Linked DNA regions of Homo sapiens: region 2 is linked to region 1. Evidence: fine-mapped QTL for protein levels in blood plasma. A gene starts in region 1. The other region holds a variant in brackets. All regions are shown on one strand. Distances are from middle to middle. Region 1 holds the start of IL16 (interleukin 16). Region 2 overlaps IL16 (interleukin 16).

Evidence for each region. PIP is the chance, under the fine-mapping model, that this variant and not a neighbour inherited with it causes the effect. The UK Biobank Pharma Proteomics Project read protein levels with antibody pairs (Olink). The fine-mapping took linkage between variants from a reference panel, not from the people measured, so its PIPs are less certain.
Region 2: its variant is fine-mapped to the plasma level of the IL16 protein (UK Biobank, PIP above 0.99).

What each region holds. Positions count from the first base shown.
Region 1 is chr15:81,190,308-81,199,499 of GRCh38, reverse strand. It overlaps IL16 (interleukin 16), which reads right to left and starts at 2,621. Exons shown (of 19, transcript NM_172217.5): 1 at 2,348-2,621. RefSeq lists an enhancer at 8,768-9,192.
Region 2 is chr15:81,298,332-81,307,523 of GRCh38, reverse strand. It overlaps IL16 (interleukin 16), which reads right to left. Exons shown (of 19, transcript NM_172217.5): 14 at 7,049-8,144; 15 at 6,012-6,180; 16 at 3,874-3,975; 17 at 1,358-1,616; 18 at 979-1,104. Among named protein-coding and RNA genes, the nearest start is that of STARD5, 21 kb to the left of the region's middle. RefSeq lists enhancers at 3,173-3,703, 3,088-4,287, 5,629-5,718, 8,784-8,833, 9,007-9,056. The variant C/T (reference allele first, on the strand shown) is at 4,507.

The DNA.
Region 1 (9,192 bases):
TTACCAGTTGCTCCCACTCAAAGCAAACCTCTCCTCCAGCATCTCCAGATGTGGCAAGAACAGCGCCTCCCTCCTGATGGGCTCCGCCCTTCCACCCAACGTCCTTCACATCCACCTGAGACATCCACTGAGACTTCTCAGTGTTTCTGGCACACACTGAGCAACACTGTCTAGTTTACAAGACTGACATAGATTCGTCCTTATTTCAACAGGAATTCAAAAGAAGAACTTGAAGTAAATTCCTGATTTCAAGCTGCCTTCCTAGTTAACCACAACTCCAAGTTCTTGGAACTATTTGTTTATTTTGCCCCATGCCTATTTTCTCCCCGTGTTTATGAGCATATTGCTATTCACAATGAATTGCTTTTTAATAGCAAAACGTAACCTATATATGAAAATGTATTACCAATTCAAATGCACAATAAAAAATATGTATTTTATATATATATATATATATATATATATATATTTTTTTTTTTTGAGATGGAGTCTCCCTCTGTCACCCAGGCTGGAGTGCAGTGGCATGATCTCGGCTCACTGCAGTCTCCGCCTCCCGGGTTCAAGCAATTCTCCTGCCTCAGCCTCTTGAGTAGCTGGGATTACAGGCATGTGCCTCCACGCCTGGCTAATTTTTGTATTTTTAGTAGAAACAGGGTTTCACCATGTTGGCCAGCCTGGTCAGGAACTCCTGACCTCAAGTGATCCGCCCGCCTCGGCCTCTCAAATTGCTGGGATTACAGGCGTGAGCCACTGTACCTGGCCAGTAGATTTCAATTCAAAGTGTACCTCCCTCCCTCTCACTCCTATACCCCTGGGCCACTGCTGGGAACCAGAAAGGGGGAGGGGTTGACAAAAGGGCAGGTCTCAAGGTCCTGGTCTGCCTCTGCCAAAATAATTCTGCCTTAACTGATTATACATGAGTTTTCATGATAGATTTTAATTCTAAAAAGGTTTCCATGAATACAAACAATTAGAAAATAATAATTCTATAGTCAATTGCATCCAACAGAGATTATTTTTTAACCCTATGGATATATGACCATCTTTGTGTTGAGGAAACTCAAGTATTTATTGAGGCATGCCACAAAGCCAGTGAGAGCATGGATTTTGGAGTCAAGCTGGGTTTGGGTCCTGGGAACGTCTAGCTGAGTGGTCCTGTGCAAGCCTCCTCACCTCTCGGTTTGGGGATATACTCCCTAAGCTCCAGGTTGTTGTAAGGTTTAAATTAAATGAGGTATGTGAATATTTTAGCTTGGTGCCTGGGGCTTGAAGAGTGGCCAGGAAATGGTTGGGGTACTAAGTTTTATTTAAAAGACTCACTGGGGATTGAATAAATGAGCAGTAGAGGCTTCAAGGGTCTGACCCACCTGACGGCTCATGCCCACGTCATATCTGCAGCAGGGGAGGTGCCTTCTACTGTGCTCGTAAATGTTGACCATCACTTAACTTCAGGGTAAAGAAGGAGAACAGAGGAGGAAAAAGGCTGAACGGTCTTCTCCTTCCGGGGGAAACTGGAGAAATAGGAAGGGGAGCCACAGAGACGGCAGCTCCCAGGCTGCTTCCAGGAACCCAGTGGGAGCTTGAACTGGCCTCCTGGGACAAAGGGGTCGTCTTTGTATGGCTCAGCCTGAAGTGGGAGGATTTCACCTGATAAGGGCAGGAGGAGAAGATGCTTCCCTGTATTCCACAGGGAACCTCTATTCTTATGCTGTTACCTCATTCTCCAGCTACAGAAAGCAAACTTGCTATGGACCAAAAAAGAAAAAAACAAACAAACAAAAAACAAAAACAAAAAAACACCAATCCTGGGACCTACCAATGCAGGAATTAGTCACGGGACCCTTATCAAAAAGCAAGCAGAGTGAACACTTTTCCCATGGTCAATCTGCAGAGATGCCCACCCGCTGTGCCCACTTTGGAGAAAAGGAGTCTGGCCAGGCAGCAGAGAAGCCCCCATCAGGTGCCCCGTGGCCTTTCTCTCTCCTGCTGCCTTCCTTTCCTCCACCTCCTTCCACACCCCATTGCCAAGGATGAGACGAGGCTGAAAAGTCAGAAATCTCAGGACCAAATTCTCCCCGTGCTGCAGAGCCAGGTCAAGCGATATCCCTCTGCCCGCTCTGGCCTTCTGAAGCTGCTTCCTCCTGTACCTAACTGTGACATGGTGACACAGAGATTCCTACCAACACAATCCTGGCTTCTGCTCCTGCCCCTGACCCCAGCACCACTTCCAAATATGAAGTTACGTCCTAGCAACCAAGACCCTCCCCATTCAGGTCAGAGAGGCCAGCTTCCTCCCTCCGGTAACGGCCACCTGGACAGAGCAGCTGCCTGACAGACATTCACTCACCTGGTGCCCACCTACCTCCCTATGCACAGTCCCCCGGGGCTGCCATCTCCCTTGCTCCTCTCTCCATCTGCCCAGCAGGGATTGCAGCACCACTTATTCCCGGACAGCCTGTGGCCCAGGCCTGGGTCAGAGCCGGCAAGGATTGAGAAATGGACGCTCAGTTCTCAGACGGAGGCCGGCCTTTGAGTCAGATCCCAGGCTCCGATAGTTGAGATGCCGTGAGTAGGACACAATATTCACCACCTGCTCTGGACAGGTGACTCAGGACAAATGTGTCCCACCTGGCATGGATTTGCTCGAAGACTCCTGATCTGAGCCATCTGACTGCTCCACGTGAAAAGGCTTGATCCAAAAAGGGGGGCTGCCAGTGCTGAGAAGCTCAGCCTCAGAACAAGGTCCACCATCTGCTGGGCTGGCCGGCAACACCCAGGAGGCAAACCCAGTGCAGAGCCACAGAACCACAGTGAGGTTCCTTGGTCCAGCCCAGTTGCCCCTGCCTTCTTTGGACAACACAGAAATGACTAGGAGAGCCGAAAGGTAGCAGACATGACTCGGTGCCTGCAATGTGCCTGGCACGCTGCTAGGAGCTTTCTATAAACCTCATCACATGCTGGAAGCTGTGGCACGTGCCTATAATCCCAGCTACTCAGGAGGCTGAGGCAGAAGGATCACTTGAGCCGGGGGATTCAAGACAAGCCCGGGCAAACCATAGCAAGAACTCCTCTCAAATTATATAAAAATTTAATAAAAAGAGGAAAAAAGTCATCACATACAATCCTGCCATCAATCTGGTAAATATATCACCTGCTTTGCAGACAAAGAAAGCCACTGCACAAACGTTCATTAAACACCTACTACGTGCCGTGGAATTTCCCCAAGGTCACACAGTTAGCAAGTTAGCAAGTCAAAATCCACCTGTCTCCAAAGCCCAGGCTTTTTCCATAGCATTTCATTTCTTGTCTGTGCCACCCTTTCCCAAAAACAACAGACTGGCTCTCAGAAGCTTATGTAACTCAGTGGTCCTCAAGCCAGCTGCATCAGCAGCATCTGCTAGAAATGCAAGTTCTCAGGCCCTGGCCTAGACCTCCTGAAGCAGCACCTCTGGCACTCTGTTTTCACAAAGCCTCCAGGTGATTTTGGTGCGTGCTCAGGTGCGAGAGCCCATGACCTAACGTATACAGAGCATGTTGAAAACTGCAGCATAAAAGAATGGGGCACTTTTGTGTGTGTCCTGTTGGCATTAGTGTCATGAGACCAGAGTGCCTTTCCCCCACGTAGCCCCTTGGAGAATCTAATCATAAGGTGGCATTTAATCCATCTGCCCCGCAAAGAGCATCCCACACATCTCTCCTAAGCTCAGTCTCTGTGAGCCCTGTGTACATGCTAGGCTGAGGTTTTTGTATGGACCTCTCTTCTAAAGAATGGAATGTTTCCCAACGCTCAGCACCAAATGTTTCAGGGCTTCCTGGGGGCTTTAATGAGGGTGTAGGTGCAACCTGTAGGAAGCCCTTGAAATTCCATGCAAGGCTGCAAAGATCTAGCCGCTGCTGCTGGAGAACACAGGCCCACGGTCCCAAGGGAAGCACGGGAGGAGGGAGCACTCTGGGGATAAAGCTGCCTTTGTCAGCAGGCACAGGGGACATTGTAGGGCTGAGTCTGGAGTGAGTCTGGAGTGCAGTGAAGGAATTTCTAAATTGCAGAGAGTGAGCGCCTCTGTCAGTGTCGCCTGCTCAGCTCACACCCACAATCTCTCTCACAATGGCCTGGGTGCGGTGGGGCCAGGACAGACTCAGGCCCCACTTCCATCTTGCTCTGGCAGAGAGGCTGAGGAGCAATTCAGCACCCCAGGGCTATGGGGGCTGGCCTTGCCCTTCTTGGATCCTGAGGCCTGGGAGGGCCCCACAGCCCCCCTCCTCCACTAAGTCTAAGCTCTCTCTTGTCATCGGCACCTGAATCCAGTTCCCGCCTCTCCCTCTATTTTCCGAAGATCTGTTCTTTCTCACTCTCAGAAGGTAAATTTATTCCAAAGTGTAGTTGAGACTTGGCCCTGATTTTTCCTAATACGGGGTGGTTTGTGCTTCAAGGTGGAAATTTTATCACCCCTCTGCCCTTCAGGACATCCTGCAGAAAGAGTCTCCACCCTGCCCAACACTCCATAGTCCAGCTCACTGCAAGCCAGAAGAGACGGGGAGGAAGACGCAGGTGAGAGAGCCCCGCCCTGGTTAGAACTAGGAAGTTCAAGCACCACTTGAAGCTCAACCAAGAGCTTCCTGTGTGATCTTGGTCATTCACAGCCTTAGTTTGCTACGATGAAAATTAGATGAAATTAATTGTCTGCCAGATGAAATTAGAAACTTCTACTGCACAGTGTTACTGAGAGAATGAGGCAATAGAGGAGGAAGCATGCTGCCAACAGCTAACCAAGCAGAAGCCTGCTCACCTTTTTGGCCCTTCCAGCCCACGGAACTGAGAAATCTGTTCAACAAGTGATTCTGATGCTTGCTAAAGTTTCATAATCAATAACCTGTATTTCCTTCTAATTCTCCTATTTTTTAATTACAAAATTTTATTTCCAAAAGTAAATTTTTAATTACAAAAATTTTAATTACAAAATTAAAATTATAAATTTTGAAAAATTAATTTAAAAAATTTTAATTTTAAAAATTCTAATTTAATTTTTAAAAATTAAAATTACAATTACAAATTTAAATTTAATTTAAAAAATTAAAATTACAAAAATTTTTAATTTCAAAATTTTAGTTATAAAAGTAATACATGTTTGTTGTGGCAAGTAAACATATTCAGAAGGCAAAAAGAAAGTGTGTCCTTAAAATGACACAACAGGGTCATCTCCTATTCTGTTCAAACAATGGCAAAATAAAGAGCTTAGGGTCAGAGCAATAAGCCCCAGCTTCTGTACTAAGCGGCTCTGTCAACTGCAAGTCCTTTTACCTTACTGAGTCTCAGTTTCCATGTCCACAAAATGGAAACAATAACCCAATAATCTGACAGGGCTGCTCAGAGGTCTGAGCAAAGAGCTGTCCTGCAATCTATAAAATGCCTTGGGAATTCTTTATGCTGTACACTTTTGGTCATGCGAACTGTATTATCATGAGCAGAATATAATTTAACAATTTTAACTAGTAATGTAACAATTTTAACTAGTAATGTAACATGACGCAGAATATAATTTAACAATTTTAACTAGTAATGTAACAATTTTAACTAGTAATGTAATGTTACTAGTAATGTAACCTGACAGTAATGGACATGATGATAATAAATTCTCTCTGCATTTAGCACTTTCAACTTAGACAGAATGTTGAGGCCAAAACTTGATGATTTTATTGTACGTCCCCACTTACGGATGCAAACACTGAGACTCAGAGAAGTTACATGTCCAAAAAGTGCACGTCCAAGGCTGTGCAGTCAGAAGCCATTGGTCCCTTGATTCCCGCTCCCCGGCTCTCTTCCCCTCTTTCCCTGGCCCACAGCAACATATAGATTCAAACCAAGGGTTTTAACTTCATACGAAAATTCTAGCTGACTTCCATGTAGACCATGCTGCCCTCTCTCTGGCCTTTTTTTCTTTCAAACTGTCCATCAGGCTTGCATCCTTTCAAAGTAATATTCCATCACTAAGATACTTACAATCACGACAAGCAACTGAAGCCAGTCCACAAGCAAATATACCACGCACATGCCAACAACTCCCAAATTCACTTCTCCAGGCCTGGACTTCTCCTTGAATTCTGACTCTTTTTTCCTACCACTTGCTTAACATCTTCAGCTGGGGTTTAACTTAAATTTCAAAAGTAACATTGCCTGGCTGTTATTCAGTGAGGCAAAAAAAAGGAACACTGCCAACAGTACTCTTGATTCCCCCCCTAATAAAATGTTTCTTCCCTAAACTTCCACATTTTGGTAATTGTCACTAGCATCCATCAATTTCCCAAGCCAAAATCCTCAGTATCAAGGTGGGAAGAACATAGCACAGGCTCTGAAGCCAAAATTCCTGGGTTCATCTCGCAGGTCTGTCCCTGCCCAAGTGCATGATCATAGGCAGGCAAAAAGGCACTTCTCTGTGGACTGGTTTTGTCATCTATAGGCTGGCTAGTGCACTAACATCCACCTCACAAGGTTTGTTTGGGCTAAATATGGTAATACTTGTAAGGTTCTTAGAACAGTGCCTGCCAGAATAAGCCCTCTGTGAGTTTTTATTCATCTTGATCCCTCCATCTCTCTAACCTTCCACATCACATCCAATTTATCAGTGATTCTCGTTGGCTCTATCCCCAGAAGCTATCCCACTTTCTTTCCGCTTCTCTCCATCTTCACTGCCGCCACCCTCCTCTTACCAGTGCCTCTTGTCTGATTATAGCTTTCACCTTCTAACTGGGATTCTGGTTCCTATGCAGACCTTCATAATCCATTTTTCACATAATAGCAGGTAGGCTTTTTGAAAATATAAATTGGATCAGCATAAAATTTGCAAGGGCTTTGAATTACTTTTAAAAACTGTTTTTTGTTTGTTTGTTTGTTTTTGAGACAGCATCTTGCTCTGTGGCCCAGGCTGCAGGGTAGTGGTATGATCATAGCTAACTGCAGCCTTAAACTCCTGGCTCAAGCAATCCTCCAGCCTCAGCCTCCCGAGTAGCTAGGACAACAAGCACATGCCACCACATTTGGCTATTTTTTCTTTTTTCTTTTTTTTTGTAGAGACACGGTCTCTCTGTGTTGCCCAGGCTGGTCTTGAACTCCTGGCCTCAAGCAGTCCTCCTTCCTTGGCCTCCCAAAGTGCTGGGATTATAGGCATGAGCCACTGCACCCAACCACTTTTTTAAAAATTTAATAAACTTTATTGTTCTGAGCAGTTTTAGCTTTACAGAAATATTGCATAGAAAGTACAGAACTCCCGAATACTGATCTCCCTCTCCACACACACAATTTCCCATACTATTAACATCTTGCATTGGCGTGGTACCTTTTTACAATTGATAAATCAATACTGATACATGATTATTAGCTAAAGTTCATGGCTTACGTGATGGTTCACCCATTGTGTTGTGCAGTTCTATGGGTTCTGACAAGTGCATAGCGTTATGGATCTACCACTGTAGTATCAGACAGAGAGATATATTTACTGCCCCAAAAATGCCCTGTGCTCCACCCCTTCCAAAGGCTTTGCGTTGTTTTCCAAAATAATACCCAAATTCCTTACAGTGTCCCAAAGGAGCTAAATGATCTCACCCTTGTTTATCTCCCAAACTCCAGCTTCCACCTCTGCCTCTCCTGCTCGCTGCATCCCACAGCCACCCTGGCCTTCTGGCTCTTTCTTGAATAAGCCATGCCCTTGTCACCCTAAGACTTCTGCCCTAGCTGTTTTCTCTTACAGGAAAGTTCCACTTCCAGATCTTCATATGGCTGGCTCTTCCCTGACTCCATCTCCTAAGTGGGATCTTTCTTGACCACTCAACCTAAACCAGGCACTCACCGTTACCTCTCCTTATTTTATTTTCTTCATAGAACTTGCCAGCATTTGAAGCTGTCTTGTTAGTCTGCTTGGGTACTTACATACCACCCATCCGCCCCATCTAGGTCCCACACAGGGACCTCATCAGCCTGTTCACTGTGGGGTCCCCAGCACTAGAGCATGCCTGGCCCATAAAGGGTTGATAAACATTTACTGAGTGAATCAATGCATAAATGAATGAATAAATGACTAATGCCATGTAATGAGTTTCTACATTTGTTTGTAGTTTTCAGTTTACAAAGAGCTCTTCCAGACATTTCCTTAGCGTAATTTATGTGATTAGGCCCAGGTTTAAATGGAACTTAAAAAACATATTCACAGTATCTCTCTTAGCTCCTAGAAGCCACAGATTAGGAAACAGAATGTTCTCTCCAAGGGAAGAGAGTTTAGTTCCAAGAGCATTCATGACCCTCCGGTTATGACAAGAAGAATCACTTGGTTTAATTCATGGCTCTAAAACAAATAAAAAGTACTCAGAGATATAGAACCTTGGCTGATTAATAACAGCAACAACAAGCATTTGTGCAGCACTTGCTGTGGGCCAGTGTGGAGGCTGAGGCAACTCCATCTTGGGTGCTAATCCCCCATGTTGGATTCTGATTAACTCCAGTTCCAGGAAAGTCTCGTAAGGTTTCTAGTCTATCTACTGTTCCTTGTATAAGAGCATGTACTTATCCTACCCTTAGGTCAAAACAATCTTGATGTTATTGTACTTACCATAAATCCTGACCTTGAGCAATCACCCTACCCATTCCTTCTGAAGCACTGTACCCTTCTCCTATGATATATAAACCCTGGGTCTGGGGTGTAATTGTGGGGATTCACCATCTTGTCTCGCCGTCCTAGACACAGACATGGCTTCTGGACATAAGTCCCTATTCAACATTTCTTTCTAAGAAACTGGATTTTTCAGCTTCTTTCTTTGGCCCCTCAACTTCCTCAGCCTTTGGGGGTAGGTTTGCATAGGCCTGCTCACCATGGAACAGCTAGACACAAGGCTAAGTACCATCCACACAGTATCCAGCTCCACAATTCACTTGGAGGGTTGGTACCATAATGATTTCCCCTTTTTCTTATAAGAAAGGGAGGAAGAGACATCACAGGGAGTAAAACAACTCAAAGCCCAAAGTACAGAGCCAGGATGTTAACCCAGGATTATCTGACAACAAAATCCAGTCAGTTCTTGTCCTTGTAACAAAAGCTGAGTAAGTAAACATTGCCGTGCTGAGCATCTGTAGATTCCTACCCATCCCCTTCAGCCCTATCACATGGGTGGGCTTAGAAAGGGTTAAACGCCACACTGGGAGGGAGT
Region 2 (9,192 bases), 110 kb before region 1:
ATGGATTCTGGGGGGAATGCCATGTAAGCCTCACTCTACCTTCTGGGTTTCTGCAGCCGCAGCAGAACTTCCTCTAACGAAACCAGTCAGCAGCAGGAGCTCATAGTGGGTGAGGGACAGAGCTAAGAGTCCCTTTGGGTCTCAGTCCTAAGAGCCCTCAGACACACACCTGTACCTCTTTACCTCCTTTTATGGATGAAGAGCCTCAGGCCCAGAAGGGAAGGGTCACTCAGCACATTACAGGCAGAGCTGGGACTAGAACCTGGCCCACCTGCCTCCCTGTCCAGTACTCCTCTCTCTACAACCCCTTGCTCTGTGGCTTGGAGACCTCCAATTTGAGGAACACCAAAGAATCAGGGATGGTTTTACATGGTAGCCACAGTCATTCATGATTTTCACAGGGAAATCCAAGTGACCCCCATATCAGACTGGTTTGTACTCCAATCCCTGATGAACAAAATATCTATCAACATTTTAAATAAAGGCAGGAGCTGACGTGTCCAGGACTAGGGTAAGGCAAATGAGGCCAAGTGTGCAGTACAAAGTCAGACTCTGTCTTGATTTAAACTTGGATATTTTGTCCAACATGTTTTTTTAAAATTAATTTTAAAAAACACGCTGCATTAAAATAGTATCGATCTGAGTTACTGAGTGTTTTGGCACCCCTTTAAAATTCTGCCCCACAGGCCAGTGCCTCACTGCCCCACTCTAGAGTCCTGGCCCTGCCAACCCGAACCAAGCCCAGGACTTAGGTATTTTTGAAGACCCATCAAAACAGAGGGGGGATTGAGGGGATGTCTGAGCAAAGGAGAAAAAGTAGAAAAAGCAGAATTGAGCCCTAAAAGGACCAGCATGCCTATGAAGAGGACATGGAGTTGTGGGAAACAACATAGCCCAGAAAGTGCCCAGAAGCCTTTTGGGGGCCTGGCCACATGCCCACAACTGGAGAGCACGCAAAGAACCAGACACACCCCACACCTTTGAAAATCCTGTTAATGGTGAGAGGCTTGTCTCCGTGTAGGGAGCCCTTCCCTCCTTCCAGGCTGAAGCCCAGCCCTGCCGACATCTTCTCCAGTGTCACCGTGCAGACTGTGGCCTCTGCTGCTGAGAAAAACACAAGGTCTCTGTTAGGGATCCTCTCCTCTCCCAGGCCACAGATGCCCTGGGCTTCAAGTGAGCCCGGGGTGATACAGCCCCCGTGTTTGCACACAGGCACATGTAAACACGTCTCAGGCAGTGTACTAGGCAGCCACACATTCTTGGGGTCACAAATTACTGAGTAGCCCCATCAGGTCTGGCCCCAAATGGCCAAAGAGGATGTGGCCCATGTGGCTTCCACTGAGTTGGGAGAACTTACTAGATTCTACAGAAACATCACTGGCTGCAGAGGCTGAGGCTGCAGAGTCAGTGGAGGAGTTGAGGTCGGGCATGGCCTCTGGAGTCAGCTTCCTTGTGACAATCACAGCTTGCCTGGGCTCTCGAGCTTGGCGGAGGATGGCCAAGGCATCATGGTGCGTGGTCCCCTTGAGAGACTTGCCGTTGATGGAAAGAACCTCATTGCCCTTCTGAATAGTCCCTTCCTGGGAGGCCAGCCCATTTGGAAACACTCTGTGAACCTGAGCAAACCAAAGGAAGTCAGGACCAGAAATCACACAAGTCCAGTCCACATACTTGCTGGAGGAGGATTGAACCGGTTAGTCAATGCTAGAGGATTTTTAGGCCAACAAAGATTAAAGATAATTGTGTCCTAGATTGGAGCTGCTGGCACAGAGGCCAGCATTCCCTCCTTCTCCATCCAGAGCAGAGATCACCAGCAGTAATGACCAGGTAAGCCCTCAGAATCCATCCCAACACAACGTCCTATAGTGTACCACCACGATTCTAGTTGGGATTCCATATAAAATCTTTTGCTTCACCTGCCCTAGGTCAGAAGTCCCCAGAGTAGTTTTCTCAAGGCACTGATTCTATGGCATATTAACGGGTATTGTGTAAGAAAAAGGCTTTTCCTATTATTTTTTAAAAAATAGAGACAGGGTCTCCCAGTGTTGCCCAGGATGGTCTCAAACTCCTGGGCTCAAGCAATCCTCTCACCTTGGCCCCGCACAGTGTTGGAATTACAGGTATGAGCCACCACACCCGGCCAAGAAAAATTTTTTAAAATCAAAGAAACTTGAGGAATACTGGGTGAAACAAAAGCTCTGACATTGTCTACTTTTAAAAAGCAAAAGGCATTAGAGGGTCTACAATGCAAATTTGCATGGCAGCAGATTTCTAAGCAAAAGGCATTTAGAGGGTCTACAATGCAAATCTGCATGGCAGATTTCTAAGTATTGGCAGGGTATTATGGGGATTCCCAAAGTGTTTCAACAAAGAATTCTTTTCTCATAGAGAAATTCTCGGTCTCATTTGGCAGAATGCATTTTGAGAAACACTCTCCTAGGCAGTCTAGACATTTTTATAGCTCCTCCCCTAGAAATTCTGACTCTTTACCTCCAGTCACCTCTTGGTCCCCTTTCTGCAAGATATGTGGGATAAACAAACACACAAAAATATCTCATGTCTCTGCCTCAGCCTCTTTAATGAGGTCCATTATAATTAAGAGGACTGAGTGATAGCATGCATGGAAACCACTAAAATGTGGTACCTGTAGTTTTGCTTTTATGATAGGAGCAAAGCTCTTTGCTTCTCTAAATTGTTTTGGTGTTAGAAAAATTCTGTTACATGGTTAGAATCCCCAGGCTGTAACATCCAAGCATGAAGCAGAACCTCTCCTCTGAGCCTCAGGTTCCTCAATGCTAGAGGATTTTTAGGCCAACGAAGATTAAAGTTAATTAAAGGAGGAACCTCAGGTTCCTCCTCTATAAAAGAAGCATAAATGCCACCAATTTATCAATCCAAAGTGTGGGTAGGATGAATTTAGACAACAGGTCAGTGAGTGCTCAGCATGGCCGTGGATGGTGCTCTACGTTAGTTCCCTTTTAATCATCTGGAAAGGAAGAGAAATGCTCAAACACAGAAGGAGAAAGAAGCTTTTGTGCATGTGCTCAGCCAACATGTGCGCCTTCCTCCTAGTTTCCTGTTGTCTGCAGTGTCTCAAGGGTGACTGGCCAGATGACGTGGACAGAAGTTGCTACTCATGGACAGAGAAAAATACCCAAAGTGCCATTCCCACAGGCAAGCTCTCTTTCCTCCTCTTCAAGTAGAAAGTAAACTACACGGTCAGGAATCTTTTTGTAATACTCAGCTGCACTCAGTGAGAGAAATAGAGACTTACAGGTTTTAAGTGTTTTTTATGTGATAGAAAACTTATCAGGAAATCAAGGAAGTCACCACTGACATGATTGACTCTGAAGTGACACGCAGGAACATGCCAGATTGCCACTGCAAGGGGGTGTGGTATGTTGAATGCTGGCTGATGCTGTGAACTGGAGGATTTGTTTTCAGTTGGGCATGGAAATTCAAATGAGCCCAGCACAGCCTACACAAAGGATACCCTGAGACAACACAGCCCTGGGATGACAGCAATGCACTCGGCTTTAGAGAGCGAGCAGCCGCAGCATGGCTCCACAAAACTGGCAGAACCAGAAACCATCTGGGTCAGGTACAGGTGACCTGAAGGCAGCAGCCAATGCTGATCAGATTGGATGAGCCAGAATAGTGGGACCCACAGGAAAAGATGCCCATGGCCAGGCCTGCTACCCTCTCCACGCAGCCCCAGGCTCTGGGATGTGCTGAGTGGACAGGACCTGCCCAGTGGCCTAGTGTCATGCATTCTTCATTTCCCCAGCACAGGGCCCCTTCCTGGCAAGTGTGTCCCCCTCCCCCAGAACCATTGCCTCTGGCTGTGACATGCCCCTTCACTTGGCCACTCACCGTAATCACCTTGTTTTCTAGATCTGCTCCTCCTGCCAAGCTGAACCCAAGACCAGCACCTTCCTCCTTGTGTAAGATGGTGACATGGATGCCGTCTAATTGCTGCAGAGGAAATACATACATTCAAAAACATTTTACTGCAAGAGGATGAACAATTTAACATCGGACTGACATCAGACTGATTTGTTATCTCAAACCCCAGCTTGGCCAGCCTCCAAGTTACATCACCTCCTCAAACCTCAGTTTCCTCATCTGTAAAGAATGGACCTTCAGGAGTCATGGGAAGCTTAGAAGAAAAAAAAAATGTATGTAAAGCAGCAAGCATAATTATTTTCCTCTCTCATTCACCCTGTCCACAGCCGGGCAGGGGGAGTGCCATGAAGTCAGCCAGAAATCAGCATATTGGACAGTGTGAGATGAAGTCAGGTTGTAGGACTTCAGGTAAAACAAAACAAAAAAAAAAAACAACAAAAAACAAAACAGGGGTCAGTGCTGTTCTGCAGGAATTGGTTGCTCCTTCTTCCCTTCTACTTCTCCATGGGTCACAGCAGCAGCACTAAGGAAGCCCAGCTAACATCCTGCCCCAATGCACAGTGTGCAAGTGTGACACACACACACACACACACACACACA[C/T]ATTACTACGGTACTTCCTAGCCTAGACGGGGACTCCCATGGAGCCAGGACACAGTCAGAGACTCCTATTCCAGTCTAGAGCAGGGGTCTCAAACTCAGATGCCTATAGGAGTCAGGCAGGTCCCTAAAATGAGCCAAATGGGCAGATGTGTGATAGGAACTGCAGAGCGCCAACGAGTACATCTGCTCAAAGGGTCAGCTCTACGTAGGCATACAGAACTAGCGCTACCAGATCACTTCCCTAAAGTCCAGGTTTCAATTCAGGTTTTATCATGTATAGAATTCAATATTTTTTTCATCACCATGCAGACCAAATAAAGTACACCTACAGGTTCTTGGGGCACCTGTTTGTACCTTGGCACTAAGGAGTAAACTTATGTCAAAGAATTCACTTGCTCAGCGTCACTAGAGCACCTGACTTGCAGCTGTCCCTATGATCCTAAGACTTGGAGCCCCTAAGACCCAAAGGCATGGAAGGATGAATGTACCTCACTGCACCCTCACCTCCAAGCCCCAACACTAGCCCAACTCTCTCAACTTTTACCCAAGTATCAGGTTACTTGCCTTGTAGAAGGCTCTTCTCATGTTAGAAAGCAAATACTCTCCCCAGAGCAGCTCAGGCAGGATGGCTCTTTGTGTTTTACACGCTCTGCCTCTGTTATTTCATTTGCACTGAGTAAGATCCTGGGGGATGATGGTCCCAGGTGACAAGTGAAAGCCACAGCGAAAGAATCTCAGCACAGCAGCACCTTGGGCTCATCAGACTCACCTACACTCTTGATGTGGAAATTGCAGCTATGAGGCCTCCTTGTATGGAAAACGAGAACCTCCTTATCCTCTCATCCTAGCCTGGATCATTCTAGTGCCAAAAGCCTACGGAGGCCTGGGGCAGCACCTAGAGGGTGCAGGACCCATGAGCCTGAGCTCATTTGACTGCTGGCCCCAGCTCAGCCTGGCCACTTCCTCCCCACACCCCTTTGGGTCATGCTCAGAAAACATATGGGAAGTGAGACTTTCAGAATGACTTGACTGAAGCGTGGGGGACTTGTGAGCCCTGGGATCAGCCACCTCTCCATGCACAGTGGAAATAATGAAAGCTCCAGGTGAGAGCTCTTGTAACCCACATTGTTTACAATGGACAGCATCCCACAACAGACACATGCCAGGACAGCAGCACATGGAATGTGGAAACAGCACTGAACTTGAACTTGGAGACAGAAAACCCAGGTTCTGTAACCTTGATTGAGCCTTACCTTTCTCATTTATAAAATGACAAAAGAAGATGCAAGAAGTCAATCTACTGAAAGTGGTTCACAAGCTAAAAGGCTCTCTTCAAATGGAAGGTCTTACTGTGGTCAAGTGCTACAGTGTCCCACCATCACAGGACGCAACCTGGGTCTGATGTGAGCAGGCTACTCAAGCTACTTCCCCTCTGGCCCAACTAAGGTGGCCACACAGCCATAATAAGCCATTGGTTACTGCAGATGCTTACAAAGGAAACCTACCTTTAATGTTGCTTCATCCAGAACCTTCACCTCCTCGATGAGTTTTTTTAATTCTTCTGAGCTCAGCAGGGAGATAACGGACTGACCAGACTGAAGGGAACTGTGGTCCCCATCATCGTCTTCCTTGGCTTCCGTGAGACCCTCTGTATATTCTCTCAGCTCTGAAAGGCTTTCATAAGGAGAAACAACACACAGTATGAACAACAATATTAAAAAGAGGTAACAGTGATTGTATAATTACTATGTCCCAGGTGTGGTGCCAAGCACTTATGTGCATATTATTTGATGCAACAAATCTATGAGTAGATACTAGCATACCTTCACTCTACAGATATTTCCCAGCAGTGTAAGAATAATAAATAAAACTAATAAATGCAGAGCTACTTTGATCAGAGGGAAGACCAAGCCCCAGCCCTACAGCAGGGACCCTATGGCACGTCTGACATCCTCTTGGTTCTGCATAGAAGGTCTCATCCATCTCCTAATTTCAACTGACAAGGAATCTGAGGGTGAGCATGGAAAGAACCTGCTCATAGTCAGAATCAGTGCCTAAGCTGAGACTAGGACCCAGACATCCTAACTCCCTGACGAGGGAGTTGAACCCACGTGCAGAGTACAAGTGGATTCCATTTGGAGAGTAAGAATTCCTGATGGATAATTTCCTGGCCTCATTCTGGTCTTTCTGAGTAACCGCAGGACATTTCAGATGTGCATCAACCTTCCAAATCTCCACAGGCGTATGTCAGCCCTCATGAGCAATTCACCAGGGAGCCAGTCCCACCTCCTACCTCCCAGCCCTCCTGAAGCCAGATGTTGTGAAAACTCCTCCTTAATGTGAAAGGCAGAGGTGTAATACCTACAGACAGACACACACACACTCAGACATCTGCACACACATGGAAAGAAAGAGGCAGAACAATTCTTTAATCAATATATCTGGGAATTTTTTAAATTATATATAGGATTATTTTTAAAAATAAAGATGAGAAAGAAAAAGATGAGAAAGGTAAAGAGAAACACCGGGTGTAGAAACTCACTTGAGCGAGAACCCTGTGTCCAAGGCAGATGTTTCAGCAGAACCATTTGCAGCTGAGTCTTCGTTGGATGATGATGTTGGAGATGCCCCTTCCTTGGGGATGCAGGGAGTCTGGGCACAGGAGATAGAAGATGGAAGGCACAGCAAGGATTTCATGACAGCCGATGACACTTGGCTGCTGATAGAATAGAGTTTGCTGGTCTTTTCGTCAAGTAGCTTCGTCTCACAGGACTGGGACCTGGTCAGGGGGAAGCTCCGTGCTCGCTGGCTAGGCATCTTGAGCACTGGGCCTTGAGATTCCTCAGCCTGTGTTGACAGCAGCCTTAGGAGCGGGTCCGGGCCAGGGGGGAGAGTTTTCTGATTGGGCTGCCGCCCTGGGGGAGGGGACTCAGACACACCTGGGTCTCTGGCCTCGGAGGCTGCAGGGGACCCCGAGGACAGTACTTGCTCAGGCTGCTGGGGCACAAGAGTGGGTGCAGCCCCTCGCCCCAAGAGTCCAGAAAACCGTCCTTCCTCATGCTTCCCAAGAGGTTTTGCTGCCTCCCCAGAGGAGGGCTGGAGGCTCAGTCTCTGGGCTCCTTTGTCAGGCAGTTGAGAGGAGCCAAAGGTTTCAAAGGAGCTGATTCTCTGCCTGATGGAGGAGGAGGAGGAGGAGGCCCGGATGTGTGATCCTAGGTGCTCCCTGGAAGCAGGTGCTGGCTGGGTGGACAAGGCAGGATCAGGGAGCCCTCTTGGGTCTGAAGCACGATTCCTCAAACCTTTCAAGCTTTGGCGAAACCAGGCTGGCTTGGGAGCCACAGGAGGACCTTTCTTCACAGTGCTGCTGTCTGCTGACTTGTAAACTTTGGGAGTGCCATTGGCGGTGTCCAGCTTTGGTGGGGTCCCATCTGGGTGGCCCTGTGTCCCTTCTTCTTCATTCAGGCTGGCATTGGGCTGTAGAGGCATGTGGCCATGGTTCTCACTCATGATGGGGCTAAATAAGTTTTTGATGCAGTCAGAAATCCTAACCCAAGGGTCTTCGGCTGTGGTATCAAAGCTATAGTCCATCCGAGCCTGCCTCTTAAGCAGTGGGTGTTTTATCGGGGATGTTTGGGTCACTACAGTGCAGAAACAAGGCCAAAGCTGTGCATTACATCATACAGTGACTTTTCTTCCTAAATTCTAGTTTCCAAGCTGAACAGCAAGAAGGATTCAAGAGGAGGAGATTAGCAGAAGTGGGGGACACCCAGGTGGGTGAACTCCAGGTGCTATTACCTGACTGAGCTGCCAACAGGCAGGAGTGAAGGACCAGAAGTAGGAGTTAATCTCACAGTATCCTAGTGTTTTAGGCCTGGAAGGGTGCTCAGAGAATATCTGGGCCGACCTCTGGCATATTACATTTCAAGAAGGGTAAGGGGCCATCTGATGGCAGTGCTCAGGCAAGACCCTGTGTCTCCTGACTCTTGAAGTTCATGTCCTTTCTACTGCACTAAGGAGCCTCCAAGATACCATGTTAAATGTGTAAAAGCCAAAGCAGTTCTCCTGCCGTTTAAACTTTTAAGACAAAGGTCATGAGTTGGCAGCTGTTTGTGCTTTGACCTACCCGTGTCATTAAAAACAAGGTGCCTGTGCACAGCTTCTGATGGGGCCACTTCGGCTTCCCACAGCTCTTCACGCTCCCTCTCACCCAGCCAGCATTTCCCATGTATGTACCTGCCTGGCCCTGAAGCCGTGTGTTTGCTGCTCTGCCTATACACAGGTCATTGATCAGCTTGCTCTCGGCAAAGGAGTGTTTTCCCTCCCTCAAAAGCTGATGAAAAGGTTCCAGGTAGAAAGGAATCTGTGAAGTAGGATTCTCCACCTTGGCTACATACTGGAATCTGGAGGGCCCTGAAAAATACTGACGCCCACCCCTAGGTACTGACTGAAGATACCTGGGATGCAGCCTGGGTGTTGGGAATGTGATGAGCAGGGGATTGCAATGTGCAACCTGCTCTGTGCCAGCCAGGACCTCAGGCATGCCCTGGAGCACATAGGAGTCTTTCTCAGAAGCCAGCATTGAACCAGCATCATATCTGCATGGGTAAGGGAGAGGGTGTCCTGGCTCTCTTTCCCAGGGGCAGAGGGAGGCTGGCCTGTGTGCCTTGGGGGATGCTTGCTACTGGA